2 separate regions of the Homo sapiens genome follow, and region 2 is linked to region 1. Evidence: fine-mapped expression QTL. A gene starts in region 1. The other region holds a variant in brackets. All regions are shown on one strand. Distances are from middle to middle.

Region 1 (14,345 bases):
TTTTCATTTTTTAGATTATCTCTCGGTAATAGCCAGGACATAACTCATGGCTGACTCCTTTTCTAATTCTCCAACTTGCCTCAGTGCCTCCCAAAGCCTAGTCCCCGATGGTAAGGCTCTGTGACCCAGCGGTCAGGGTGAGGCCCATGGCAGTCGCCTGGTTCTATTAAGAAACCTCTATTTGTAGTCCTGCGCTTCATTAGATAAACTGGTTTTCTGCATGTAGACTGCAAGTAATCACCGCATACAAACAAAATGAACTCTGCCGCCTAGCACTAGATAAGTAATGCTTCAGAAACTATTACTCTAGGCCTCTTCATAAACTCAGTCCCTTCCCAGCCGCCTCCCCACCCCACCCCCTGGCTAAAGTGAACGTGTACTTATTTGCTGGCTGAAATTCTGTCTATCCTGGTTTCACAATCCTCCCTGCCTCAGTGTCAGAAGTCATATAGTTGCACAGACAAGCTTATCTTTTGGCAGCAATTTCTAAAACAAATGTAAGTCCTTTGCTTTTCTCTCCCCTGCCAACCCCCGACACTGTACTGCATCGCATAAGCTTCCAAGCTTGCTTTTAAAGCTTCGTCCTTGAGCACATGGGACATGGAAAAATACTGCCTGATAGGGTGGCTAATCTAGTGGGATGATTGGAGATCAGTGGATTAGGGAGACTGTGGCGTCAATTGAAGATCAAGGTCCACTGTGCTTCATGCCACTCCTTTAGAACACAAAGGCCAATATCATTCTTGCCACACCAGCTTAAAACCCGATACCTCGGAAGCAGGTTAGGCAAGGCAGCACAAGGACTTGCTGAACCCAGAGCAAGCAAATATCCCCACCTGCAAGCCTGCTTGGCAGAGCAGGGCTGACAGTGGGGCACAGAGAAAGTTACCTCAACCATTCTGTACTCCTCTTGCCTTTAACGAGCCCCCATTTTAACCAAGTTTCATCCCTCCTCTTTTTAAAGCCTCTCGAAGGACCCATAATTGCCCTTGATAGAGCTCCTTCACATGTAATTTGAATGTAATTCACTTACATAGTCAATCTGATCAGCACTTACTAATCCATTGCCTATAACTCATTTTTCATTATTATTTCTTGAATGAGTGATTTAAAAAATTGCATATGCATATCGTTCCCAAGTCTCTCTCTGAGCCTCTTTGTGACGGGGATGGAGTAAGCACCAGCTTGTATTTCCTTCCTAGTTCCCCTTCCTGCGGCGCTTCCCTCTTGGGGAGATTTCGGTGAATGCTGAAGATACTTTCTTGGGCAGAAATGAAGGGGCTTTCCATCCTCTGTGGAAGAACCACATTGACAAGCCCCCCAGCACCCCACCTTCTTATTCCCAGTTGTGTGACCTCAGTTTCCCTGACCGTCTCTGTGCCTCTCCTCGCAGCCCTCTTGAGGACTTGTTTCTCCACCCCATGGCTGCTCTGCCAGGCATGGTCTAGGCCTGGACATCAGCAGTCACCAGGTTTGCTTCCGAGGAGCAGCGGCAGCAGGAGGAAGTCTGAAGCTGTGGTGAATGTGCTCCTTTTGGAGCAGGGCCCAAGGCCAACCTGAGTCCAGGAGGAAGAGATGAAGCAGGACAGCTGCAGTGGAGGATGAGGACAGGGGGACGCAGAAGCACCTTCCTGCTGAAGTGTACCGTGAGGGGGTGTGGGGACCACACTTGGGGTTCTGCAGCAGCAGCTGGAGAAGAGGGTCACCTCAAATTGCAGAGGATGCACTGGAAGGCAGAAGGGGGAAAGAGACTCAGAGAGAAACAGGGGGAGGGAGAGTAGGGAGAAGCAGGGGGAAAGGGTGAGGGGAGAGAAAAGAATTACCTGCACAAGATGGCCACTTGGATGGAGGATGAGGAATAGAGAGCCCGGAAGGCGAGAAATAGGTCTAAATTCATGGCACACATTCATACACAGGAGGCCTGGATCTCTGTGGGCGCTGGGGTGTGTGTGCACCGAAGGTCCACCTGGCCTGTAGTTGGTATGTCGATGAGGCCTTTTCCCTCTCAATGTCCTGTGATAGCCGGAAGCATTATAATTGCTTAAAGGATGGTGGCTAGAAAAGTTGAGAAAGTACATATTCCCTAGAGTGCTCTGCTATATTTTTCTACGTTTTTATTTCCTCCAAGAGTGACAATCCCTCAAAAGCTCAGGAGGCTGCTTTGAAGGGGGAATTAGGGGCCAAGAGGCTTGAACGCCAAGAGAGGGAGCTGCGCTATCTCTAGGTGTGAGAATAGGGCTGGCCCAGCCTCCTGAAGAGGGGCTTCTCCAGGCCCAAGCCCAGGACCAACAGCAGCTGTGGGTGTGGGAGAGCGGCTGCTCTGGCCAATAGGACTACACCAACTGGGGTGTCTGAGCCAAACAAAGCCCACCAGGGACACCCCATGTTGGATCGGGCACCATATTTTCCTCCTTCCACCTGGAAAGTGATGCTGTAAGCTCCCGTCTGACTCATTCTCCAGGCTCAGCTTGAGCCCACCTCCAGCAAGAGGCCTCCCCAACCTGCTCCCACCCTCATTTAAACCAACAGCCCTCATGGCATCTACCAATTACAGTTTGCTGTTCATCAGTTTTTCCAAGCAGATTAATATTTTGAGGCCATGAGCAGTAGGGTTTTCAGAATTAAATAGAAAACTTTAGCACTGTTTGAAAACTTTAAGAAAAAAATCGGACTACCAGCAGAAGTGTCTTCCATGAGTGCTTTATACTTTTAAACTGGACTTTTTTTTTTTAATCTGGGAAAGTTGCAAATGAAGATGAAGAATCTGCAAAGACGTATCCCCCGGTGTTTAAAAAGAAATGCTTGGCCAAACAGGCTACCTTCAGGTTGTATTTTTTATTTTAATGAAGCAGGTCGGTCTCAGAAAGAAATGTCATAAAGAAAATGTGGCACATATACACTGTGGAATACTACGCAGCCATAAAAAAGAATGAGATCACATCCTTTGCAGCAACATGGATGCACTGGAGGACATTATTCTAAGTTAATTAACTCAGAAACAGAAAACCAAATATCGCATGTTTTCACTTGTAAGTGGGAGCTAAACATTGGGTACACATGGTCAAAAAATGGGAACAGTAGATACTGGGGAATACAAAAAGCAGGAGAAGGAGAGGGGGTTAAGGGTTAAAAACTACTATCTATTGGGTACTATGCTCACTACCTGGGTGACAGATTCATGTGTGCTCCAAACCTCAGCATCATGAAATTACAGCTTTGTAATAAACTTGCCCACGTACCCCCTAATTCTAAAATAAAAGTTGAAAAAAAAAAGAACACTTCATTTGCAAGGAGGAAATCAGAAGCCCAGGGTATAAAACTGCAAAGGATGTACGGTGGGAGGGAGATGTGACGCCAGTGGAGATTTAACTGTATCGATTATACTGATATTTCAACTAGCATCGTTACTGTTCTTGGTAATAGTAACAAGGCTCTGGTTATAAGTTCCGTTAAGTTTTGAATGGTCTGCCCACCTCTACTTTTCCCATGAGCTAATTATTTTTCACCCTTCGTTTTCCAGAAACGAGAGTTTTCATGGGCGATGAGGCGGATGAACGTATGAGATTGCAGTAGAAGCTCCAGTATGCGGCGATTTCTGGCTTATTGACCTATGACACTTTTTTTCTGGATTCTTATCTCATTTAACTTTGCTATTTGTATTAGTTTCCAAATGCTACTATAGCAAATTTCCACAAGCTTAGTGGCTTAAAACAACCCAACTGTGTTATCCTACAGTCTGAAGGTCAGAAGTCCAAGTTAGGTCTCACTGGACTAAAATCAGGGTGTAGACAGGGCTGTGTTCCCTCCCGCCTTGGCCAGCTTCTAGAGATGCTCTCACTCCTTGGTTCAAGGCCCCTCTCGTCTTCCAAAGAGAGCCATGTCCGGTCTTAACTCGCATTAACTCCAACTATCTTGACTCTTTTGTCCACTTATCAGGACCCTGTGACTACACTGGGCCCACCTGGATAGTCTAGACTCATCTTCCCATCTCAGATCTTTAACTTAATCTCATCTGCGAAATCCCTTTTGTCATGTAAGCTAATGCTCACAGGTCCGGGGATCAGGATGTGGACATTTTAGGGGTGTCATTATCCTGCCTGCCACGCTGTGGTTATTCACCTTTCTATGTGTTCATGCTTTGGCACCCCCAGCAGATGGGAAGCTCCTCTGGGGAGTGGGGTACTGCTTCTTTGTCATTCTGTTCCCCATAGCAATTGCCCAATTCAGATACTCAGAAGGTATTTTTCAATTAGTTTTCCTTCCTGACTCCTGGTTTGAATAACACAGAAGTGTATTTCTAGGTAGTAGCTGTGTTGAGCCAGCCATGGTATCTTACCTTCTTGCTAGTCAGTGGGATACAAAGATGATTCAATATTGCCCCAATTTTCAATAAATTTGCCAGGTCGGGCACGGTGGCCCTCGCCTGTAATCCCAGCATTTTAAGAGGCCAGAGCAAGAGGATTACTTGAGCCCAGAAGCCCAAGACCACCCTGGGCAGCATAGTGAGACCTCGTCTCTAGAAAAAAATTTAAAAACTTAGCTGGGCATGGCGGTGCCTGCCTGAAGTCCCGGCTACTTGGGAGGCTAAGGTGGGAGGATTGCTTGAGCCCAGAAGTTAGAGGCTGCAGTGAGCCATGATCACACCACTGCACTCCAGCCTGGGTGACACAGTGAGACCATGTCTCAAAATAAATAAATAAATAAATAAATTTGCCTTGCAAAATGTTCAAGATGGCTGGACAGCACCCACAGGGTAAGCTCTTTGACACAGGAACGACACATACAACTAAAGATAAAAATAATGTGATACTTGATTGAGCATAATTTTATGGAGCAGAGGTAGCTAGAATGAGTGGAGAAAGCAACCAGGGAGAAGAGAGCCGAGTGGGTTATTCTCTCCAAATTTTGAATAAAGTCATGGGAAAATCAAAGTAGTAGGAAGGGGTCAAAATGAAGCGTGCAAAGATGTAAGAGTATTATCACGAGAACCCAAGACAGCAAAATACGTGTATGTCTAAATACACCAGAACAGCAAAGGAGAGCTTACCTTATTTAAAGTGACATAAATAAAATTGTAAAACGTAGGGATGCTACTGGAGGCTGAGGGTGGAGGAGACACTGATATAAGCAGCTTTCTTGGTCCTTTGCTTTTGTCGATCAATTTTCCAGGATTAGCTAAAATGCAGCCAGATTTATCCCAGTAAGAAAAAACGTACCCCCTTTCTGGATGCCCAGAGCACTTTGTTTCCTCAGTACAAAGCAGTGACCACATGTGGCTTCAAATTTTGCCATGGAAATCCCCTTACACCCCCTGAAAGCAGATTCAGGTGTGCTAGATGGTATTTTCCAAAGATGAAACCGTCACAGTATCTCCTACTCATGTGCTTCCAGAACTTCGCCACTACCTAGTCAAGACGTAGAGCCTAATTCCGTTTCCTTGAGTCAAGGCAGGTTTGGGACTCACTCACAACCCATAGAAGGCAGTACAATGGATGCTGCCTAGCTTCTAGGTCATCAAAGGCGGCTGAGCTTCTGTCTTGCTGGGGCATTTGCTCTCGGAGCCCTGGCCTTCCACGTGAAGTCCGAGTACCCAAGGCAGCCATGCTGTGAGGGAGGCCACAGTGCCTGGGGAGGACCAGGATGGACGCTGCAGTCAGCGGACCTCATCCTCCAGTGCTCCAGGCCAGGGTTAGACATATAAGGAAAGGAGCCGTTAGACCATAATACACCCCAGCTGCTGCGTTACCCACAGTGGTCACAGCCCCAGCTGTCATGCAGCAGAGACAAGCCACTCCTGCTGTCTAAATTCCAAACCCGCCAGGTGTGGTGGCTCATGCCTGTAATCCCAGCACTTTGGGAGGCTGAGGCAGGCGGATCACGAGGTCAAGAGTGCAAGACCAGCCTGACCAATATGGTGAAACCCCGTCTCTACTAAAAATAGAAAAAAATTAGCCGGGCATGGTGGCACTTGCCTGTAATCTCAGCTACTCAAGAGGCTGAGGCAGGAAAATCGCTTGAACCCAGGAGGCAGAGGTTGCAGTGAGCGGAGATCGTGCCATTGCACTCCAGCCTGGGTGACAGAGTGAGACTCCATCTTAAATAATTAATTAATTAATTAATTAAATAAAATAAAATAAATTCCAAACCCACAGACTCTGAGAGCATAAATAAGATGATCTTTTTAAACCACTAAATTAAGGGGTGACTTCTTATGCAGCAACAGTACCGGGGGAACCAGGTATGAGCAGTGCACATATTTTCACTGAATTTATATTGTTTGGGAAGTTTTCCTGGTTAAGAGTTCCGATTATAGACATTATGTTAACAGAGAAACCAACACCTAGGACGATTAGAGGGTAATCAGTGGCTTCTCCAGGGCTTCAGCTACAGTGATGGGTGAGAGGAACATGACAAGGATCAATTCTGAGAGTGCTGGCCGGGTGCAGTGGCTCACACCTGTAAGCCCTCATTTTGTGAGGTCGAAGTGGGTAGATCGCTTGAGTCCAGGAGTTCAAGACCAGCCTGGGCAACACGGCAAAACCCCATCTCTACAAAAAATACAAAAATTAACTGAGAGTGGTTGTGCTCACCTATAGCCCCAGCTACTCAGGAGGCTGAGAAAGGAGGATCACTTGAGCCTGAGGAGGCCAAGGCTGCAGTGAGCCGTGATGGTGCCACTACACTCCAGCCGGGGTGACACAGTGAGACCCTGTATTTAAAAAAAAAAAAAAAAAAGTATTCTACTTGAAGCAAGAAAAAAATATTTTCTGGAAGGGAATCACTTTCCTAAAAAAGAAAAGTAGCAGAATTTTTGTGCCTAGGGACAACTGAGAATAGGCACCCCCTCACCCATGCTGTGTCCTCCAGGATGAGCTGCCCACAGGTGAGGTGGGGGACCACCACCCAGCTTAGGCAGGAGTGGCCCCTGCAGGGGCAACACAGCGAAGAAGGCTTATCAAGCAGGATGGGGGTTTCCAAGCAGTGCTGCAAAAAGGCCTTTCTGTTGTTTTTTATGTAAGTCTGTTTCATGCCACATTTTGGGTGAAACACACACACACACACACACACATACTGCACAGCTGACAGTGGACAGGACTTCCTGGTGACTCTGGGTAAAGTCATTGTTGCTGGAAGAGAAGGGAAATGCATGTTTCCGGTGAGTTTTGCCTTATGTGGCTAAAATGTGAGGAACTTGGCAAATTTCCCAGTGCAAGAAGTCTATGGGACAGTCTGAAAAAGGAAGGGAGGATAATCTCCACCAGTTACTGAAGTGAAAGTGAACTGTTCTTTTCTGGGGACCCTTCCTTACAGAGAAAGGGTTGAAATGAAAAACACAGCACAGCCAATTTTGTAATATTATCTGGCCAGTTTAGTAGCCTATAGGTATTGTTTAAGGCATTTAGAAATTCAAGTGGTTGTTAGGACTATTTTTTTCTTTGCTTAAGACATCTAACCAATTTTGCATAAACTAGGATGGGGAATATAAAGGCCTTGGTGTTTCTTTTCCAGTTAAATAAATCTATCAATAAATAATTATGGAGCAGGTAACTCCCAAAATGTTTACTTGGATAATGAAATTCCAAGAAAGAGCCTTTAAAATTTGTAGTAGGCTGGGCACGATGGCTCACGCCTGTAATCCTAGCACTTGGGGAAGCCGAGGTGGGTGGATCATTTGAGTCCAGGAGTTTGAGACCAGCCTGGACAACGTGGTGAAAACCTGTCTCTACAAAAAGTTTAAAAATTAGCCAGCCTGTAGTCCCAGATACTCAGGAGGCTGAGGTGGGAGGATCATTTAAGGCAGGGAGGTCAAGCCTGCAGTGAGTCGTGATTATGCCACTGTACTCCAGCCTAGGTGACAAAAGCAGACCCTGTCTCAAAAGATAATAACAATAAGTAAATAATAAAAATTTGTAGTAAATAGATGTCTCTTTTTGGGGCTTATTCTGCATTATAAATTCACTCAGCATCAAGGCCACAGGATTAACTTTTAAACGTCAAGCTTCCTTCTTGTCCTGAAATGTGTCAACAGGTACTGAGTGTTGGCTCAAAGTAACTTGGTCTTACCTGGGGTAATCCCCTACCAGATACCCTCAATTATCTGGTCACTACAGAGCCAAATCTCCAGCATGCCTGGGCTGACATTCTGGAGAAAGTGAATCACAAATCACCTTGAATTAAGGTAACGTGGCTTCTACCACACAAAAGCCCCAAACCTCAGTGATGAAACACAATAGAAATTCACTTCCCACTCATGCAGGAATTGGCGCAAGGCAAGAATGAGGGACGTGCCAGACAATCCTGTGGAGCCTATGCCGAGACAGGCTCTGCCATCCTACGGGCATGTCCCCAGCACTGCTGCCAACAGATAGGATCAGAGAGCAAAGGATGGGCCGGAGCGTTTTGTGGGCCAGGTGTGGAAGTGTCATACATCACTTCCTCCTAGCTTCCCATGGCCAGAACTGTCACCTGGCCCAAATTATTAAGTAGATGCAGGTGTCTCTTGAAAACATCTTCTCTGGCTGAGCAGCCACTTCCCAGCAACAGAGAAGGGGAGCAGAATTCCCTGATGAACATCCAACCTTTGGCCACCATGTCACTTACACTATGGATTCTACCCAGCCCCAGCCTGTGGGATAGCTCCACAGATGATCAAACCGCTCCTAGTCCCAGCAGGTCCATAAGACCATGCTTTGCTGTCTTGATCTGTATTACATTCATTTGGAGCAGTACTTTGGAGCTGGGAGATGGTCCTTCCTGTGGGGATGCAGCAAAGATGGATGAGGCTAGGTCTGCCCAGCTCATCCTGTTTCCAGTGCTCATTCACCAAGGAGGCCAACCAACATGGGAGGTCCTTATGAAAGGAAAGCATGTTCCTCTGGTGCTCAATGATAGATGAACACCTCAGCATATGCAGGGCCCAGGGCAGGCTCAGGTGTCGAGAAGATTTGCTGTGGAACTAGGCCCTGGCCAGGATTTCACTTAGTAATTAACTCTAGGTGTTCTTTTTCCTCTGTGAGTAGCTACTAATGATATAATGGCTGGATTCAATGCTGAAGGTAAGCAGACCTGCTCAGAGATCTGTTTATTTACATAATGAGTTAGCTTGCCCTGTGGCCCCATCACTCTCCTATGTAAATCTAGATTATTTTTAAGGAATGGCAAATATAAGCCATGATTTATTGTTAATTCATTATACTAGGCACTGTGCAAAATACAGTACAGTTTTTATTTATAATAGTAACAACAGCTCTGCAAGGTAGACATTATTGTTTTTATTTTAAAATGAGGTGCAAGGTTAGATAGCTCCTTCAAGGTAGCTGATGAGCAGCCGAGCTAAGACTGGAGTCCTGGCCTATGCAATTCTAAGCTGTGCTCTCCTTCCTACGTGCCATATGATGCATGCCCCACCACCATGCTGTGGGATGCTTGCCACCAGCCTCCTAGAGTAAATGCCTGGCACACACACAGCGAACACCCACCCACTCATCCCCACTGATGAGACTCACCGCAGTAAGCCTTCTCAGGACACTAACAGTAAGCATGGTACACTCACCTTGATAGAGTAACTCCCGTGTGCAAGAAGTTTGTAGAAAACATATTCATTGAAAAGTGAGTGTCCATTGCACATGACTGTGCATATCAACAACATATAATCTGGCCACACCCACCCCTCTTTAGCCATGCCAAGGGTGAGCTGCAGAGTTACAACAGCTGTTTTGGATTCTTGTAAGTGTTCATGTCATCATCAGTACGAGGTCCACTTCTCTTCACTTCTGCTTCTTCACAGTTAACAAACCAGGGAAGTGTGCCTTGTCTTTCTCCAGATAGGTTAAAAAGGCCGCAGGAATTCAGAGAGTAACCAACTTGTCACTAATACAGCCTTTTTGCCAGGCCACCAGAGCATTTGAAAAGATAGTTACTACTGCTAAGAGTCATATCATTGAGCAGAACCTTGTACAGTGAAACATTTTTATGTGTGTCTTTGAATTCTTTAAGCAAAGGCAGAGCAGTTTGGTACTGGAAATCACAACAAAGAAAAGCACATTGCACATTCCCTAACTGCCATTATTAAAATAATTACTTCATTTATTGGAGTGTTTCACATTGCCGGGCACTATCATGGGTGCTTTACACTCATTGTCTTATTCAGTCCTCACATTGCTCCTACAAAGACTATAATTTTATTATTTCCCTTTTGCAGAAGAAAACAAAAACAAACTAAGAGTCAGATTAAGTAAGCACATAGCACACGACAGCAGAAGGTGAGCCCAGGTTTGTTTGAATGCCTCTAAAGCCCATGCTTTTTCCTTTGTACCAGATAGCTAGAGGCCCCAAAGCTGTTTGCAAAAAATGCCAGCCCAAAGGAAACTCTAGCATGAAGTGGGGAGCCTGTCCAGTGCCACATGGCCGTGTTGCTGTTGTGCCCTTACAAGAAAGGGAACACAGTGTTCCAAAACTGCACAGGGACTGTAAACAAAATAAATGGCAGCTCTCAGAATTGGTGCTAATCCCTTGCTGGAGGCTGATTTCAGAAGAAGCCTACTGTGCAGCATTTGACTAGGTAGCCTGGCCCCCAAAATATTAAAAGAAAGTGCTGAGAACAATGTCTGTTTTGTGAGTGTGTATGCATTTAAGGCAGATTATCTCTTCCTATGCCAGTGCTTTCCTGTGCGTATCAGATCTCAAATGCTTGCTTAGTTATTTAAGAATTCCAAGGAAGCCTGAAATGAGCTTTTATAAGGAGAATTCCAAAGCTGACATTTGTTGATGGAAATAATTTCATAAGGTTTGACAGAATGGAAGATTTGCAATTGCATTTGGAGGCAGCAGTGGGATGGAATTACAGGAAGGACCCCTGCCAGCATGTCCCTCATACATAATAAATAAATAGAGCACGGCCATGAACCAATGACTTCAGATGAAAATGCTCGCATGTAAACATACACGTATTTTATAATTTATTTGTAACAAAGGCCTTAGGAAGGTATAGGTGAAAATGAGTTCATAAGATATGCCGTCAGCCAGGCACAGTGGCTCACTGTGATAATCCCAGCACTTTTGGAGGCTGAAACGGGTGGATCGCCTGAGGTCAGGAGTTCGAGACCAGCCTGACCAACATGGTGAAACCCCATCTCTACTAAAAATACTAAAAAAATTAGCTGGGCGTGGTGGTGGGTGCCTATAATCCCAGCTACTCGGAGACTAAGGCAGGAGAATCACTTGAACCCGGGAGGCAGAGGTTGCACTGAGCTGAGATCGTGACATTGCACTTCAGCCTGGGCGACAGAGGGAGACTGTCTCAAAAAAAAAAAAAAAAAAAAAAAAGATTTGTCATCTATTGACTGCAGTCTATCAAGTCCTAGATATATTATCTTATTTAATCCTGACAACATCTTGTGAGTTTGTGGAGAAAAGGATTCTCATGGCCATGCTACAGATAAGAAAATTGAAATTCAGAGAGGTTAAGTCCACAGAGGGTAGTAAGCGGCTGAGCTTAGATTCAAATCCAGGTCCTGCTTCCAAAGACAGGCTCTTTCTCACTTCTCTGAATAACAGACTTCACATTTCCTCGCACAGCTGAGCATCACTTTGAAGTTCCTATTCCTCCCTCCGAGGCATCTGAGGAATCCTTGGGACTAGGAAAAAATAATGATATGTACGCAGAGGTTGTTTATTTGTTTACACACACAGCCCTTCCCTACCCTACGTTGTTGTTGTTGTTTATGTGCCAGAGTCCCCAGAGCCTGCTCTCCACAGTGTGAGATAGTACATACCCTCATCGGCCTGTAAGCTACCTCCTTTGAGCTTCGAGAATTTGCCCATAAATTCCCACACATCATAGGATCCTTAGCTTTGACTGAGTTCCTTCGCATTCTTTGTGACCTGGAAGCTTTCCATTTTTCAGACTTAAAGATACTGCTGTGAACAAGTAAACATGTAACAACATCTGTTCTCCATTTGAAGATCCATTCAATCACACTGGTTTCTTTCTCTGCTCCCCTAACTTCATGGGGGCAACTGGCAACATGTCAGGAGCAGGGACTCATCGATTTTCTGTTTTAAGTGCTACCCCTTTTCTCTTTTCCTTGTCCTTCCCAATAATACCCACAGGCCTGTGTTAGGATTCCTTCCAGCGCATGTCTTCAGGGTATAACAAGAGTCACAGGTGAAATTATGTTAGAGGCAGGGTCTGAGCTGCTTGGCTGCTTTCCCTCATTCACCTAACTTCATATTGCAGGGCTAAGGGAATCCAACATCATTTTACCCATTCTTGGGATCTTGAAAGTTCTTTCTACAGTTTAACATCGTTATTCAATTAATGAAAGATTTCGATGACACTGTAGACTTGGAAAATTCACTGAACAATTCTATTCCACAGTTATTTCTGAAAATGTTACATAAAATCAACTTCTGGTGCTCCCAGTTCCCAAGAGGCCACATCTTCAATATTTCTTTGTCATGGATGCATGAAATTGTTTGAAAATAGAAAGGAAGTTTTACTTCCCTTGCTCCAAAACCCAGGATAACTTTCGATTTAATAGGCCTCTTTAAAGTCTGGGAACCCATGCTATTGCCTCCCCTGTTATCCACAAACCCACTCATCAGCCCTTTCCCCACTGAAGAATGAATGAGGCGTGACTCCCTGCCCAAGCAGCATTTCTGCCACTACATCAAAGCTCATTCATGCTTTGAGCTCCCAAAACGTAAATCCAAAGAAAACCTAGCATAAACGTTTTGCCCTGGTCAACAACTATCTGTCAAGTTAGATAACAGTGCAGGCTACCTTCTTCCCAAGTCAGGTCCTCAATATGGGAAAGTAGAGGAGGGAAAAATAGAAATTCCAGTCCGGTTTGGGTGGGTTAAAGAAGGAGACAGGGAGATTCAGGATTTGTGGGATCCCAAAGCTTATAAAATTTGAGGCATCCTGTTTAAGGAAAAAAAGTAAGATTATAAATATAAAATTATATATGAGTGTTAATATTTAGAATAAGAAAAGAACACAAGACAATAAATAATTTTTTAAAAAATGGCAAATAACACAAACGTGAAGTCCAAAAAATTAAGATTTTTCTTTAAATAACTGCTTAAAACATCTCTATCATACTTTTTCCATATGTTTATTAGCTGCCTATTTTATAATTTTGTAAATATAATTTACAAAAGAAATTATAAAAGAAATATAATTGCTTCTCAGACTTTTGGCTAAGACCAAGTATGGAGAATGGAAATATAACGCAGCCTTTTCTCCAGCATATTTGGTCAAAATTTGTTTTTTATTATCAAGAAGCTTGGAAAAGTTTCTTTTGGCTTCACAATTCATTCTTAATGATGTCATACACATATTTGGGTTGTTGTCAAGTTTCGGGAAATCCCTACGGCCTTTCATACAGGAGCTTTTGTAGACATGTTCATTATTTATAGTAATGCTACAGATTCCTGGCCAGTAAATATAGAAAGTCTGACAATTCTGGTTCATGCAATTCCTATCAAAAGCTAAAAATATAAGTATGATGAACTTACAATTGTATACTCTGCATTACTAAGTATATTAGTCTGTTCTCACATTGCTATAAAGAAATAGCTGAGACTGGGTAATTTATAAGGGAAATAGATTTAACTGGCTCACAGTTCCATAGGCTATACAGGAAGCATGGTGCTGGCATCTGCTCAGTTTCTAGGGAGGCCGCAGGCAATTAACAATCATGGTGGAAGGCGAGTGGGGAGTAGGCATGTCACATGGCCAGAACAGGAGCAAGAGAGCAAGGGGGAGGTGATACAACTTTTAAACGACCAGAGCTCACAAGAACTCATTTGTTATCATGAGGACAGTACCAAGAGGGATAGTGCTAAACCATTCATGATCTGCCATCAGGATCCAATCACCTCCCACCAGGCCCCACCTCCAACATTGGGAATTATATTTCAATATGCAATTTGGGTGAGGACATGTATCTAAACTATATCCCCAAGGTTATTCTGAACTGGGGAGAACTACACTTTTGAATAAGCATCATTAAGAATCAAGTCCTCTACCAACAGTTTTATCCTGTGATGGCTGGAAGAATTTCCCACAGACGAGCTGCTGGCTCCACATATTTCAAACATTGTTTTTCCTCCCCTTCCCCACACACTTCCAGGGCTGGTATCAATTGCCCTGCGTTCTCTGACGCTGCACATTTATGTCTTGACATCAGGAAAATCAGCCCAGTGGGCTCAGGGAGTATTCCTGGAAGTCATTCCTCATCAGGATGGTTATTCATAACTCAGCTATATGTGAAATTGTCAGAAAACCACATAAATAGGTCCCATTTAACCAAAACTAAATATATCTCTAACTTGAACTC
Region 2 (16,881 bases), 25 kb before region 1:
ACCTGTAGCCCCAGCTACTTGGGAGGCTGAGGCAGGAGAATCATTTGAACCCGAGAGGCGGAGGTTGCAGTGAGCCGAGATCATGCCATTGCACTCCAGCCTGGTGACAGAGCGAGACAGCGTCTAAAAAAAAATTATATATATATATATATATATATATACACACACACACACACACACACATAATATTTAATATGTCAACAAGATTTTTAGATTTTTTTCTTTCTTTTAACTTTTATTTTAGGTTCAGGGGTGCATATGCAGGTTTGTTATGTAGGTAACTTACGTGTCATGGGAGTTTGGTGTACAGATTATTCCACAGCCCAGGTCATAAGAATAGTACCTGACAGGTAGTTTTTCGATCCTCACCCTCCTCTCTCCCTCCACCCTCCAGAAGGCCCTGGTGTCTGCTGTTCTCTTCTTTGAGTCCTTGTGTACTCAATGTTTATCTCCCACTTATAAGGGAGAATATGTGGTGTCTGGTTTTGTTTCTGTGTTAGTTGGTTCACGTAGGATAATGGTCTCCAGCTTCATCCATGTTGCTGCAAAGGACATAATCTCTTTCTTTTTTATGGCTGTATAGTGCTCCATGGTGTGTATGTATCACATTTTAGATTTCTTATTTTAAAAAAATTCAATGCCCCCAAAATGTAATCACCTACAAACATTTCACCAGGTGAAAACTTTCTCATCCCACAAACTTTAGGCCATGGACAGTATGCTTTTCCAGAATCTAGGGAAAAGTTAAAGCCCTGGGCACAAGGTAAATTCACTTAGAATTTCAGGGTAGATACTGATTTTTATTAGGCTCTTGTGCCACTCACAGAAATGCCACATGCTCTTAGTCATCAGCCTCACACTAATACCTGTATACCACATCCTATTCAACAGAAAGGAATATCCACTTTAACACCCATCAGGAAAAAAAAAATGCTCTTTTTAAAATAAATCACTGACAATTTTCTCAAATAAAATGTCGGATCAAAAAATAAATGCAGGCCAGTCATGGCAGCTCATGCCTGTAATCCCAGCACTTTGGGAGGCCAAGACAGGTGAGTCACAAGGTCAGGAGTTCAAGACCAGCCTGGCCAACATGGTGAAACCCCGTCTCTACTAAAAACACAAAAATTAGCCAGGTGTGGTGGTAGGTGCCTGTAATCCCAGCTACTTGGGAGGCTGAGGCAAGAGAATCGCTTGAACCCGGGAGGTGGAGGTTGCAGTGAGCTGAGATCATGCCACTGCACTCCAGCCTGGGCAATAGAGCGAGACTCTGTCTAACCAAAAAAAAAAAAAAAGAAAGAAAGAAATGCATAAACAAATGTATCCCTACAATGGGATATTATTCAGCCATAAAAAGGAATGAAGGGCTGGGCGCAGTGGCTCACACCTGTAATCCCAGCACTTTGGGAGCCCGAGGTGGGAGGATCCTGAGGTCAAGAGATTGAGACTATCCTGGCCAACATGGTGAAACCCCACCTCTACTAAAAATACAAAATTTAGCTGGGCGTGGTGGCACGCACCTGTAGTCCCAGCTACTCAGGAGGCTGAGGCAGGAGAATCGCTTGAACCCAGGAGGCCGAGGTTGCAGTGAGCCGAGATAGCATCACTGCACTCCAGCTTGGTGACAGAGCAAGACTCCATCTCAAAAAACAAAAAACAAACAAGCAAAAAAAGGAATGAAGTTCTGACACAGGCTACGACATGGATGAACATTGATTGGAAACATGCTGCTAAGCGAAAGAAGCCAGACCCAAAAAAGAAACACTGAATGATTCTGCTCATACAAGGAACCTAGAATTGGCAACTTCATAGAGGCAGAAGGTTGAAGAGACGTTACCAGGGACTGAGGGGAGAGAGAGCTGCTGTTTACTGGATATGGAGCTTCTGTTTGGGATGATGAAAATAATGAAAACATTTTTGGAAATAGATGGTGGCAATGGTTGCACAGCATTGTGAATGTAATCAATGCCAGTGTACCGGCCTCCTAAAAGTGGTTCAAATGGCAAATTTTATGTCTATTTCATCACAATAAAAAGTACAAATATGAAAATAAATGACGACTTGGAACACCTTGAGCCATAGAGTTCCGCCTGGGGGTCTTTGGCTGAAAGGACAGACTAGACTGTGTTCCCACGGCTTTTCCATCCCAGAGCACTCACAAGCCCATCTCCTCCATCTCCACGGCCCCTCCCCCCCATTCTGCTGGCCTGACGGCTCTGCTTCCGATCTCAGCCCCACCAGGAAAAGCTTCCAGAATCACAGAAACACATTCTGGGAAATTAGTTTTCTTAAAGCCTTTGCTTTTGGTTTTAATAAAAAAAAATTAAATATCTTGAAAGCAAAACTGCCATCTAAAGCAGGCTAAAATATAACTGCAACTTTAGGAAAACTTAATTATACATGCTATCAATGTACTGGCCCATGATCAATCTATCTACATTTCCCTTTTCTCTCATTTCAGAAAGTAAGAATAAAGTGGCTTTGCTTAAATATAAAAACCTAATCTCTCTTCTCTTCTCTTCCACTTCCTTGTATTAGATTGTCTTCCAGAACTAACCAAGAGGTCCCTAAAGCTGGCTCCAGAGACAGGATCCTTTGAGAATGTCTCTACTCTTTAAAAACACCCACTCACACCTGTAATCCCAGCACTTTGGGAGGCCGAGGTGGGCAGATCATGAAATCAGGAGATCGAGACCATCCTGGCTAACATGGCGAAACCCTGTCTCTACTAAAAATACAAAAAAAAAATTAGCTGGGCTTGGTGGCGGGTGCTTGTAGTCCCATCTACTCGGGAGGCTGAGGCAGGAGAATGGCGTGAACCTGGAAAGCGGAGCTTGCAGTGAGCCGAGATCGCACCACTGCACTCCAGCCTGGGCAACAAAGCGAGACTCCGCTCAAAAACAAAACAAAACAAAACAAATGAAAAAACACCCACATCAGGTTGGCCTTTTAAGTTTCCAGAGACAGAAAATCCCTTAGAAATTTTATCTGTAAACAAAGACCTGAAATTGGTGATTACACATTTCACGTAAGATGGGGAGGGGGGGCTTTTGCTCCAGGTTAACATGCATGGCTTGAACTTGACTCAAGGTCACCAACTAACCTACGTTGAGAAGAACCTTAATGTGATAAAAAGAAGTGAGTGTGAAATTTCCTACCAGAAAATGCTGATGGTTAATTTTCTGTCCACTTGGCTGGGCCAGTGTGCCGATATGTGGCTTAACATGAATCTGGACGTTTCTGTGAGGGTCTTTTGGATGAGATTAACCTTTAAAATGAGGGACTTGGAGCAAAGCAGATTGCCCTTCCCCATGTGGTGGGCCCCATCTAATCAGCTGAAGGTGTGAAAGGAAAATATCCTGGGCCGTCAAAATCACTAAGCTAAAGGAAAATTCAAGCTGGGAACTGCTTAGGGCAAACCTCCCTCCCATTCTATTCAAAGTCATCCCTCTGCTCACTGAGATAAATGCAGATCTGATTGCTTCCTTTGGAAAGGCTAATCCGAAACTCAAAAGAATGGAACCGTTTGTCTCACACCTACCTGTGACCTGGAAGCCCCCTGCCTGCTCCGAGTTGTCCCGCCTTTCCGAATTGAACCAATAGTCATTTTACATATGTTGATTGATGTCTCATGTCCCCTAAAAATGTACAAAAGCAAGGTGTGCTCTGACCACCTTGGGCACATGTCATCAGGACCTCCTGAGGCTGTGTCATGGGCATGCGTTCTCAACCTTGGCAAAATAAACTTTCTTTCTTTTCTTCTTTTTTTTTTTTTTGAGATGGAGTCTTGCTCTGTTGCCCAGGCTGGAGTGCAGTGGCACGATCTTGGCTCACTGCAACCTCTGCCTCCCAGGTTCAAGTGATTCTCCTGTTTCAGCCTCCTGAGTAGCTGGGATTACCAGCACCTGCCACCATGCCTGATTAATTTTTGTAGCAAAATAAACTTTCTAAATTAACTTAGACCTGTCTCAAATGTTGGGGGTTCACAAAGGCCTGTATAGAACAAAAGACTGACCTTCTCCCGAGCAAGAGGGACTTTGGTAGCAGACAGTCTTCAGACTTGACTGCAGGATTGGCTCCTCTCTGAGTCTTCAGCCTGCTGGTTCACCCTGCAGACGTTGGACTTGCCAGCCTCCATAATCACATGAGCCAATTCCTTAAAATAAATCTCTCTATATACCTAAATACACATTCTATTGGTTCGGTTTCTCTTGAAGACGCTGACTAATACAAAGATCTAGGAACAAATCCTGAGTCCCCTGCGACATATTTGCAGAATGATTTCAGTAAACCAATTAATCTCTCTGAGGGTAAATGTCTTCATCTGTGAAATGGAGATTTTTATATTAACTGAAAGTGTTCTGGGGGTAATGTACATAAAGCACATGAGATATCATGGGTGCTAAATAAACAGTAGCTTTTAAGAGGGAATGCCACAGACACAAAACTAAAGAAACCACTTCTCTTCTCCTTAAGTAGCTTATAGCCTTGGAAAAGAGCTAAATAACAATGGAAGTAATGTGTACTAAAACAAAAAAGTAGGGCTTCAGATTCATGCATCTTGGGTATAATGGGAAATAGAATGTGCCACCCCCAAATATGCCACTTTGGCGTAAGAATTGTTTTGAGCTGAAGGCAATTCGCTGTCTGCCATCCCCTATTCTGTCTAAAAACAGGACATAAATTTCCATTTGTAAGGGTGTCTCCCTTTCCCATACCAGGAAGAGAAATACTCCAGAGACAACTTTTAGCACCTGAGGCGACTCTTATCTGCCTAACAAACGTTATTAAACAACACTTGTTTATTATACATTTTCTCCCTTCACCTTCCCATAACTTACCTCCCATCTCAGAAGCCCAAAATCCCCTTTCCTTTGTCCAGCCTAAGATGGTTTATATAAGCTCCAAATTCTAAATGCCTCTTCGAATCACATTTCGTTGTGAATTCCTGTGCCAGCATACATAATTGTATCTGTTATTCTCTCTTGGTAGTCTGTCTTGTGTGAATTTAATTCCTGGGGCCCCCAACCACTGAACACAGGAGAGCAGAGAACAAATGTTTTTCCTCCCCTACAAGTATAATTAAAAGTATAGGAGATCTTGCAATTAAGAATTGGCGTCTGAACCAATATTCCCAATCTCTAATCTCAAACCTATTTTTTTCCTCCTGAACTGATGGTATGTTGACCTAGAGATGATAAAGGCAAAGTTATTTAGGAAGGTAACGCTGGCAGCCAGTTGGGTGGAATAGCTGGAAAAGTTCCTTTAAGAGTGAAAGGATAGGCCAGGTGCAGTGGCTCACTCCTGTAATCCCAGCACTTTGGAAGGCCAAGGCAGGCAGATCACCTAAGGTCAGGAGTTTGAGACCAGCCTGGCCAAAGTGGCAAAACCCCGTCTCTACTAAAAATACAAAAATTAGCTAGGTGTGGTAGCACATGCATGTAGTCCCAGTACTCAGGAGGCTGAGGCAGGAGAATTGCTCAAACCCAGGAGGCAGAGGTTGCAGTAAGCCGAGACCATACCACTCCACTCCAGGCTGGGCCACAGAGCAAGACTCTGCCTCAAAAAAAATTAAAATAAAAAAAGAATGAAAGTATCCATAATTACAGGTAGATTATCATCAGTTTTCTATTTTTGCTAGATGTTGAAATTAGGTGTATTGAATAAAATACATGGGACTTAAAGCCTGAGTAGCTTCTTTCAAATCCCAGCTCTGCTGCTTAGCAGCTGCCACTGGAGAAGTGATTATCCTCTGAGCTTCATTTTGTTCATCTGTAAAACCCGGCGACCAGCACATAGGAAGAACACAGCAAATGCTGGTGTCATTGAACATGCAGATAAATGAATGATTAACAGTCAATGAATTGAAAACTGTTTACCAAACCCAGGCTTGGAAGATTCAAAACAGAAACAGTGGTGTTGACAGAGCATTATATTTTAATGGATGACAGTAAATAGAAAAAGGGGGTTGATTCTGGAAAAGCGGAAAGAGCTTCAGAAATACTGGGAAGCTCCTGGCTTTTGGCGCTCCGTCTTGTTGAAATATTTAAGCCTCAACATACTTTCTCAACCTCATTGTTAGTGAAAGAAGGAAGTTCTATTAAAGAGAGCAAGAGAAAGACCATGCCTCAATAGCCAGAGTAAATCTAGTTTCCATCACACTCAGGGTGACCGGTTGGTCAAGGCAAAGCAGCATGGATGCTCCTGATGTCAGGATTTTTCTGTCCTGACCTGAGATGCTTCTGGGTGAACCCATCAGACAAGATGCTTTCTCAGACTCAAGTTCAACCACGTGGACCTCAGAGAACGTATAGCATAGTGTTTGTTGTTCCAGCTAGTACCCAGACAGGAGTCACCTGTGTGCATGTCTTTGCATGCATCGCCATGGGGGTTTTCCCAGCTCTGGTTCTCTAGTTCACTCGAATGAACACAGGAGGGATCACAAAGGCCTGAAGAATGTGTGTTCTTTTCTTCTGTTTTCCTGCACAGGTGCTAGTGTATTAAAAGCAAGAGCAAAGGGGCAGCCTGATGGCTGACGAGCTGATGAACAAGAGCAGCAGGTGTGTCCCCGCTGTTCCTAGAGAACAGTATGGAGAGTGGATCTCTCCATCACCCCCTCAATTCCCAATTACATCCCAGTTGTCCCATCCTCAGTCCTGAGGGGCTTTCTTAGTTGAGTCATAAGGGTAACCTCCAGGATGTCTCCAGAGCTAGGAGGAAGTTGCATAATATCAGTGTTTTTTAAGTACTTTTAGAAAGCAGTGACATTCATTTGACAAAAAAATTTAATGTACAGTGATTTCTTTCACTTACTGCTGTTGACTTTTCATAAAAAGATAATCTAAGGTCCCTTCCCTCTAGGATGTATTTACAACCTCCTTGGGGAGTCAAACATAAAAATTAAATAAGAGCTATGGAAGGATTACACCGATATAATTAATTTTAAAATTAGATTGAGAGCAAAAACATTTATTGAGCATGTACTATGCTCCAGGTACCTGCATAGGCACTTTTATTTATTCCTCTGATTGAACTGTCCTGTAAGGCGTGGGATATTATCTGCATTTTACAAAAGACAGCTCTAGGCTCAGAATGGTTAAGTAATGACAGGGTTCAGGACATGCTACCCCAAACTGTGGTACCTTGACACACTGAATATCTTAAGCTGAAGGAATCTGAGAGATGGCACGTGCAAGAAGCTCCCTCTCACCTTTCCCCTCACCTTGCCTGCTGAATCAGGTCGTAAAACCTAAGAAGGATTTTCTGACCTTCTCCTGAAGCAGGTCATCGTAAGACCCTCCTGTGAGCGGTGCCCTCCCTAGACCCGGAGAAAGGGAACATCCTTATTTCTGAAGACAAAGAAGAAGCTGAACAAACAGGCCTTGCTCAGTTTCCCCCAGTTTATTCCCATCAGACCACACTCTTTCCCCAATCACGTTTCCGCACACCTGGCCACTTCTCGTCAAACCTGTTGTACAAAAGAAGCCAGGCTGAACTGTTTCTCTGGGTCATTTCCTTATGAAGGTTCCCGTGTCAAGTAAAACTTAGATTAACTAAATGTGTATACTTTTCTCTTCTTAATCTGTCTTTTCTTATATGGGCCTCAGCCCTGAACCTGAGATGGGCAAGGAAGATACATTTCCTCCCGTACCGTGACAAAATAAGTGTCTTCTCGTTCAGAGTTTCCGATTCCAAATCCAGGAGTCTTTCCACTACATCAAACCTAATGGTAAATATTCAAGCATGTACAAAAGAAAGATCCCTGTAGTTGAGTGCATCCAGAGAAGCGCCTTGGCTCTCCCAGTAGTACTGCTCTGACCTGAGGAAGAATAAGGCCTTTATAAGCACAACTTGGCTGCATTCCACTGGCATAAATCCCAATCAGACAGTCAACCCCCTTCCGCATCCCCATCCTCTGGCCTTTTGAGAAAAGGGATCTGCCCTCCTAAGGGAATGTTCATTTTGCCACTAACAGGGAGCTCTCTGAAAAACGCTGTTTGCTGTCCAGTCACACCTCTGTGGAATCTTTTAACACATGGCGATTCTGTGGCAGGATACCTGTGTTGGTTTTGTTTTCACAGAGTGGTCACAAAGCTGAGTTCAAGGTGAGAAGTGAAAACAATTAAATGAATGGTAGCTTTTTCCACATGACTTTTCACTGCAGTGACCCAGCCCGGTCAGCCCCCGCGCCCGCTCGGTGGCGTGCACTTCCCATGACACACACACTCGTGGTATCCATGAGTGCGTGTCAGGA[A/G]AGCAGAAGTGTCACATGGACAAGCGAGTGTCAACAAGAGATGTGCCTCCTCTACACATCATGTGGTTAATGTCCAAACTCACTCATCCCACAGTCACGTTTGACTCTCAGTTGATCACTCTTTGTTCATGTTGAGATTCAACAGGAAATATTGTTTTTACAGGGTCTGGAATTTTAATGAGTCTAAGGATTCCTGATGGTTGTATTGACTTTATTTGTGGGGTTCTCAAAAGGAATCTCACAGTGTAGTCAACAGCAAGGAGTAAGCATTTTCTTACTTACAAAACCAAAGTTATATGTGTGGTACAAAGATGAGAGACTGGGGCCAGGCGAGGTGGCTCACGCCCATAATCCCAACACTTTGGGAGGCTGAGGCAGGCAGATCACCTGAAGTCAGGAGTTTGAGGCCAGCTTGACCAACATGGTGAAACCTCATCTCTACAAAAAATGCAAAAATTAGCTGGGTGTGGTGGTGCACACCTGTAATCCCTGCTACTCAGGAGGCTGAGGCAGGAGAATCACTTGAACCCAGGAGGTGGAGGCTGCAGTGAGCCAAGATCACACCACTGCACTCTAGCCTGGGTGACAAAGCAAAACTCTGTCTCAAAAAAAAAAAAAAAAAAAAGTGAGACTGGGAGCAGAAAGCAAGCAGTACTCACGCCACACTGCTGGGCAGTGGTGCTTAAAGAAAGCGAAAGAACAAACAAATGAAATACCAGCCTCAATGCAAAAATAAGCTGGAATGGAGGAGGTTTTCCATGCTTTTTGAAAGAGGCTGGGTAGAAATTGTAGTCTTGGGGGTTTTGTTGACAGCAAGAATTTCAGCTTTGCCTTAAGTGTTACTCAGAAGGTGAAATGGATTCAGCCAAACGTTACCATATAAACACAAACAGGCACATTTTGAAAACAGTTCCTGGAGTTCCAGGGAGCTCCCCTTTAATTCATCCCTAGCTCAATGCCGTATAGTTAGTGTTCAACGTCCTTCTAAGAAAAGAACTGAGGCGGTTTATTATTAGTGGTGAAGAACCAATACACAGAAATACAAAGGGTCATAGAAAGACAGTAAGCAACATTTCTGCTACAACAAGAGTCCGTAACCATGCTTTACTCCAGCCTCGGGGCTTCTGAAACCTCCCTAAGCTAAGAAACACAAACACATGTATGTGGGCCCATAATAGATGTAGGTGAGGGCTATAGGTCTCCTCAGCTTCATACCAGGTGGTATGTTACAATGAAAGCAAGTCTCAGACGGAATTCGGCCATAAAATAAACATTTAGAAGCCAGCAGGCTCAAAAACGTGGTACAACCAGTTCTGTAAACTCAACCAAGTACTGGTGCTTTGTTCTGCTGGCACACTGACAGGTGCCTTACATAACAGATTCACTTAAGGCAGATGTGACAGTACTCGAACAGCATGATTTAGCTTCATGTCTAGTCAGGGTCAGGTGCAGGAACCTTTCTATGAGCTGTGGATACAAGTCCTGATTCAAATCCCAAACCAGAGACAGCATTTGGAAGGGCATACATTATCCACTAGGCTTTCTAGGTCATAATACCCTGTTTATGCAAGGAGATGCAATCTGATACAGTGCTTCCAGTCAGCCCATAATATTTTGAACAACTCTTACTTCACCAATGAAAATGACTCCTAAAATCCATTATGCCAGATAGCAAAGCTGTTGGTGTTCATTGAGGATAGAGGAAGTTCTTATAGCTGACTCTCTAGAGCAGGAGCTGCTTCTTCTTTTTTTTTTTTTTTTTTTGAGACCGAGTCCAGCTCTGTCGCCCAGGCTGGAGTGCAGTGATATGATCTCGGCTCACTGCAACCTCCACCTCCCAGGTTCAAGCGATTCTCCTGCCTCAGTCTCCCGAGTAGCTGGGAATACAGGCGTGTGCCACCACACCAAGCTAATTCTTTGTATTTTTAGTAGAGATGGGTTTTCACCATGTTAGCCAGGATGGTCTCGATCTCCTGACCTCCTGATCTGCCTGCCTCGGCCTCCCAAAGGAGGAGCCTCTTAATAGTCTTTCAAATTCCAACAGACCACCCCTGGAGTGTGTATATTCATTCCTGAATAGGGCTCTTCAATATTAACTCGCTGCTCCTGGTTGTCAATTAAAAACCCAGAGATAAATACCACTACCTATGCCAACATTTTTAACCATGAATTGGAACAGTGTAATATTTTTGCTGGGATCTTTGATTGTCTCTTGCCAGAGCCCAGACTGGGGATCCAGGCATACACCTGGGCTCAAGACTTAGGAAAGCCCTCTCTCTTTCCTGGCCTTACAGTCTGGAGTCTTGGTCAGAATCTGCCCATCTTCAAACAGTTATGGCTTTCTCTTCTTACCTGTGCCTTCCATCAACCTTGTGAAGTAGGTGACGGTTACCAGGGTTAGAGTTCAGTTATTTCAAGAGCTTATCAGAGGAATTAAGCAGCAATTTTTTTATTTTTTTGCTTCAAGCTATCAGTTCCAAGGTCAACATGATATCTTGATACTCTTAAATGCTCTGATATTTTTTGATTTGCTGTGAAAGGCACACAATATTAACTCTATTAATGCCAGACAAAATACCGTCATAAATACTACATAGGAAGGGCCCTTGACAAAGACAGTCTCAGTGACCAAACTTTAGAAGGCCCCTCTCAGCCCTCTTTTTAACAGGACTCATCCCTGGACCCAGGCTTCAGCCTGCCTAGTCCAGTTTTAGCAGGGATCCTGCTAAGCCAATTTAGTGAGAGTCCCTCAACCTTGACCTCTGACCACACTGGTCTGCCTTCAGCAAGAATCCTGTTAAAGTCAGTTTAGCAAGAATTCCCCTCCCCTTGATATTTTTCTTGGTAATTACTTCTCTTAATAATTTTCTACCCATCAACCTCCCCAGCCCCCATCTGATACTGACATGGCCTAAAAAACTTGAATATCATACTGCTGGACTGAGTGAGGGTTTTCGAAACTCTAGTTGAGTTCATGAAACTGCTAACCCATGATCAAGCAAAACAAGAATTAATTACATAGGACTGAATCAACTAAAGAAGGAGTATAATTTTTATGGCTTTTTGTTTGGAACATTGCTTGTTCTTAATGTTCTATTTTCTGGACATAAGGAACCCCTTTTCTTTTTCTCTTAAGTTAGCTATAATATGTAACAATTTAGTAGATACATTTCTATAACAAAAATGGAACATTTATCTTTTTTCCTAATCCTTCCATAATTCAGAAACTATTACTGAGTATTTTTATGTTCATGGTTGTATTAGTCTGTTCACACTTTGCCATAAAGAAATACCTGAGACTGGGTAATTTATAAAGAAAAGAGGTTTAATTGGCTCACGGCTCTGCAGGCTGCACAGGAAGCGTGGCAGCTTCTGCTTCTCCGGAGACCTCAGGAAACTTCCGGTCATGTGGAAGGCAAAAGGAGAGTGAGGCGCATCACATACTCAGAGCAGAAGGAAGAAAGAGAGAGTGGGAAGGTGCTACACACTTTCTTTTTTTTTTTTTGAGACGGAGTTTCACTCTTGTTACCCAGGCTGGAATGCAGTGGCACGATCTCGGCTCACGGCAACCTCGGCCTCCCGGGTTCAAGCGATTCTCCGGCCTCAGCCTCCCGAGTAACTGGGACTACAGGCGCCCGCCACCACACCCAGCTAACTTTGTATTTTTAGTGGAGATGGGGTTTCTCCATGTTGGTCAGGCTAGTCTCGAACTCCCGACCTCAGGTGATCTGCCCACCTTGGCCTCCCAAAATGCTGGGATTACAGGTGTGAGCCACCATGTCCAGCTGCTACACACTTTTAAACAACCATATCTCACGATAACTCACTGACCAGCACAAGAGCAGCACCAAGGGGACAGTGCTAAAACATTCATGAGAAAATGTCCCCATGATCCAATCACCTCCCCCTAGGCCTCACCTCTAACACTGGGAGATTACAATTGAACATCAGATTTGAGTGGGGACACAGATCCAAACCGTATCAATGGTGATATACTATTTTATATGGGTTCGATAAGAATCTGTCCTTTTTGTAACAGAACATAATTTTAAAAATTGATTAGATAATCAAGGCTTTGACCAAAATGTTTTATTTGAGAATAAGACATGGGGGTCCATTCCAAGATGGCCGAATAGGAACAGCTCCGGTCTGCAGCTCCCAGCCTGATCGACGCAGAAGACAGGTGATTTCTGCATTTCCAACTGAGAATAAGACATAAAATCACATATGAACAGACAGTTTTGAGGAACTAAGGTTAACTTTATGGAGCCAATGCATATGAAGCCCTCCCGGAAAGTCTGCCTGGTACCTGGATTATGGAGTTCCCAGCCTTACAGGTGAGTCAGGAAGGTGACTTTCTGGCAGGCCAAAGAAACTCAGGATGTTTTTAGGACCTCAAGAAGAGAAGAACCCATCTGAATCTCTAGGCATTGCAGATAAGGCCTGGTGGTGCTTGACTTGGCTTTATAGCTTCAAGAACTCTTGAAAGCATAATCTGAGATTACTTGTAAAAAGTTCCAGCAATGCAAACTTAAATAAGCCTACCTGGTCAGTTGCCATTCTTGCTGCAATTATGCAAATAAGTAAGTCAAATATAATGAGACAAGACTTATTTTGTAAACAAGAATAATCTTACTTTGGTTAATTTGGATCAAAAAAGGGGGATGACTGTAGAAAGATATTTTATAAAAACTATAGCACCTTCTTATGGGTTATTATTCTGGTCCTGTACTTGTCTTTCAGGTTTTGTTATCTACTTGTAAATTGAACGGGATCCTGTCATCATGCACAGCTTGTCAGTCCTTACCAAATTCTCAGTTCTTCTAGTTCCCTTTACTATCTGGCTACCACTCTCCAAACTGAGGTTTTTAATTTTTCTCCCACTGTCCTGATTTGGCATCACTGAGAACTAAAACCTAACTTCCCAGATCTTTATTGTGACTGTCTAAAGAAGCCCTTCAAGATGAAGTTGGACACTTCTACACTCTGCTCGGAAAAATAACCATGACTGTGACACTGATGTCTATGCCATCACCAAGGACATTCAAACTGCAAACCAGAAAATCCATGATCTGGGATGGCCACTGCAGTCCTCACCCCATCATCTAAAGATGCCTTGACATCTAGAAATCTTCTCAACTGGCTGCCCTGCTACCAAGTTTCAGCAGGGGGCTCAGCTTGTCCTTAATGAAAAAAAGGCCACCAAATGAGAAATTGACTTATATTGTTCAAAGGAAAGAAGAATGTCTCTTTTTCCCTTGAACAAGAGGAGGGACCAAGAAAGACCCTCCCCTTGACCAAATTTTAGATGAGCTCCTCTGAGGCCTCTTTTCAACAAGCTTTGTCCTTGCATCCTGTCTTCAGCCTGCCTAGTCCAATTGTAACAAGAGTCCTGCTAAGTCAGTTTAGGGAAAATCCTCCCACCTTTGATTTCTCCTCTTAGTAATTTTCCATCCACTGACTCTTCTCCTCCCATTCTGCTCACTGGCTAAAAACCTCCAGTGGTTTTTGCTGTATTCAGAGTTGAGCTCAACCATTTCCTGTCTCCTATTGCACAGTCTTGATACCTATTGCAATAATCTTGAATAAATCTTTCTTACTGCCTTAATAAGTGTAAGAAAATCTTTTTCTTTAATACCATTCTACCCTGATATGGTTTGGCTCTGTGTCCCCACCGAAATCTCATCTTGTAGCTCCCATAATTCCCACATGTTGTTGGAGGGACCCAGTGGGAGATGGTTGAATCATGGGGGCACGTCTTTCCCGTGCTGTTTCTTGTGCTGTTCTCGTGGGTCTCAGGAGATCTGATGGTTTTAAAATGTGAGTTTCTCTGCACAAACTCTTTGCCTACTGCCATCCACGTAAGATGTGACCTGCTCCTTCTTGCCTTCCGCCATGATTGTGAGGCCTCCCCAGCCATAAGGAACTATAAGTCTATTAAACCTCTTTCTTTTGTAAATTGCTCAGCCTCAGCTATGTCTTTATCAGGAGCATAAAAACTAATACATATGCTCATTCAAGATGGATTGGATTTACCCTCCTCCCTGAAAAAAAAAAAAAAGCAAAATATATTAAATAGCAATTTTAAGGTACTGGACACCAGGCAATTAAGGATAATGATACTTTGATACTTAAGAGATGAGACATAAATAATGTCATCCATACAGTGGCCAAAATTTACTACTGTGAAAGAGTTTTGAGGCTAAGATATAGGGAGAGGGAACCCTGGTGGAGCCCCAAGGCCTCCCTGAGTTGGGGAGACAGAGTTGAAGGTTGGAAAAACCACAGCAGTGAGAACTCACAAGCAGGTTCCCAGAGAGGAGAGATTTGTGCACACAGAGTTCTAGGGTTTTGCAGAGGGACCTCCTTAAGTATTCTTCTGAGTATTGATTTGTGCATGCATGACAGAAAATTACCCAAGGCCAAAAGAACCACCTGAGTGGATTAGAAGAAACAATGTCTGATACTCGGACACAGCTAGAAATAGTACCTATTCTTACCAGCCACATTTAAGACCATGATTCATGAAGCAATAAATAGAGTACACAGAAGGGTCTTAACTTAGTAGTGGGGAATAATTATGCCTAAACTGAGCACTGCTGTAGTACCACCTAAAAAATCTTAAAAGCAAGACTTTAAGTATTCAAGTGTTGCCAAGTATCTTAACTGTATTGCAGAACAAAGCTGAAGAACACTTATAAGATTGCAAAGAACCCAAGACCCAACAAGATAAAATTATAGTGGCTGGCATCAAATAAAAAATTACTCATCATGAAAAGAAGGAGGTAAACACTAGCCATAATGAAGAGAATAATCAATAAACTGAAATCAAACCAGAACTGACACAGACAGTAGAATAAACAGAAAAGGACATTAAAACAGTTACTATAGCTGTATTCTATATGTTTAAAAGGTCAAATAGAGACATGGAAGATTTAGAAAAGACTCAAATCATCTACAGATGGAAAGTTCAATATTGAGATGAAAAAAACACTATAGGATTAGTAGCAGATTAGCTATTGAAGAAGGGGAAAAAAGTGAAATTGAAATCATAGCAAAAGACGCTACCTAAAAGGAAACTCAGAGGGAAAAAATTCTTTTAATGAACAGAGCGTCAGTGAGCTATGTAGACTAGCCAATGGAATTCACATGAAAAAGCTACTAGAACTATTAGCAAAGTTATAGGCAAAATCAATTGCATTTCTATATATTAGCAATAACCCATTGGCAATTGAAACGGAAAGAAATAATACCTTTTACAATTAGGTCAAAAATATTAAATACTTAAGAATTAATCTGACAAAACTCTGAAAGATCTATATACTGAAAACCATACAACATCGTTGAGAAAAATTAAAGAAGACCTAAACAAATAAAGAAATATACTTTGTTCATGGGAGGAAGACTCAATATTGTTAAGATGTCAGTTCTCCCCAAAATGGTCTATAAATCCAGTGCAATCCCAATCAAAATCTCAGTAGGCTTTTTTTTTTTTTTTTGGAGAAATTGATAAGCTGATTCTAATACTTTTATGGAAATGCAAGGACCTAAAATAGCCAAAACAGTTTTCAAAAAGAAGAACAAAGTTGGAGGCCTAATATGACATTATTTCAAAGCTTATTATAAAGGAACAGTAATCAAACTAGTGCAATTTTGGCATAAAGTTAGAAAAACAGATCAATGAAGCAGAAGAGAGAGTCCAGAAACAGAACTGCACATTTATGTGTTGGTGAATGCCAGGGATTCAGCTTAGGTCTGATTGCTCACCACACAGAAAGCCAATCACTGAGACAACAAGTACTGCCAGGAAGAAAGGCTTTATTGCTGGTGATGCCAGCCAGGATATGGGAGACAAGTCTAAAATCTGTCTCTGTAACCAATAAAGTTAGGAGTTTATGTAGGAGTTGCTCAACAGGCAGTAGGTAGTTGAATCAGGGTTCTGGCACCTTGCTGTTAGGATGCAGCGATCTGGAAATCTTCAGCTTTCTGATACTATCTGGGAGGCCTGACAGCTGGTTTCCTGAGAAATAAACTCAGATAAGACAAATGTAAGTTTCTCAAGCTTTAAAACCTGGAGAGTCCACTTCAATGTTCATTAAAAACAAAAACAAAAACAAAAAACAACAACAAAACTGTAAACAGTTTTTCCCATCAGTTCTATGGGAAAATTGGGTCAGTTTCATTGGCATGACCAACTTTTTACAAAGATGCAAAAGCAAGTCAGTGGAGAAAAGACAGTGATTTCTATCATATCATCACAACAGTGAGGTTGGCACAAGTGGTAATCTATATGCAAAAATTAAAAACCTCAGTCCTTACCTTGCACAATGTATATAAACTAACTCAAAATGGATCATATACCTAAATGCAAAACCTAAAACTAAAACTTCTAAAAGAAAACTCTTGTGACCTTGGGTTAAGTATCTTAAATACTATGCTAAAAGCATGATTTATTAAAATCATAAATTGATACATCTGACTTCATCAAAATTTAAAACACCTGCTCTTCAAAAGACATTGTTAAGAGAGAAAAGTCACAGACTAGAAGAAAATATTTGCAAACCATATCTCTGATAAAGGGCTTGTGTCCAGAACATATAACACACTCTCAAAATTCAATAATAAGA

Evidence for each region.
Region 2: its variant is fine-mapped to the expression of LINC02363 in monocytes (BLUEPRINT, PIP 0.95).

Annotation. Positions count from the first base shown.
Region 1 is chr4:184,348,266-184,362,610 of GRCh38, forward strand. It overlaps LINC02363 (long intergenic non-protein coding RNA 2363), which reads right to left and starts at 5,712. Exons shown (of 3, transcript NR_040108.1): 1 at 5,048-5,712; 2 at 1,824-2,013. RefSeq lists an enhancer at 5,713-5,782.
Region 2 is chr4:184,321,964-184,338,844 of GRCh38, forward strand. No RefSeq gene overlaps it. Among named protein-coding and RNA genes, the nearest start is that of MYL12BP2, 16 kb to the left of the region's middle. RefSeq lists an enhancer at 6,042-6,601. The variant A/G (reference allele first, on the strand shown) is at 8,255.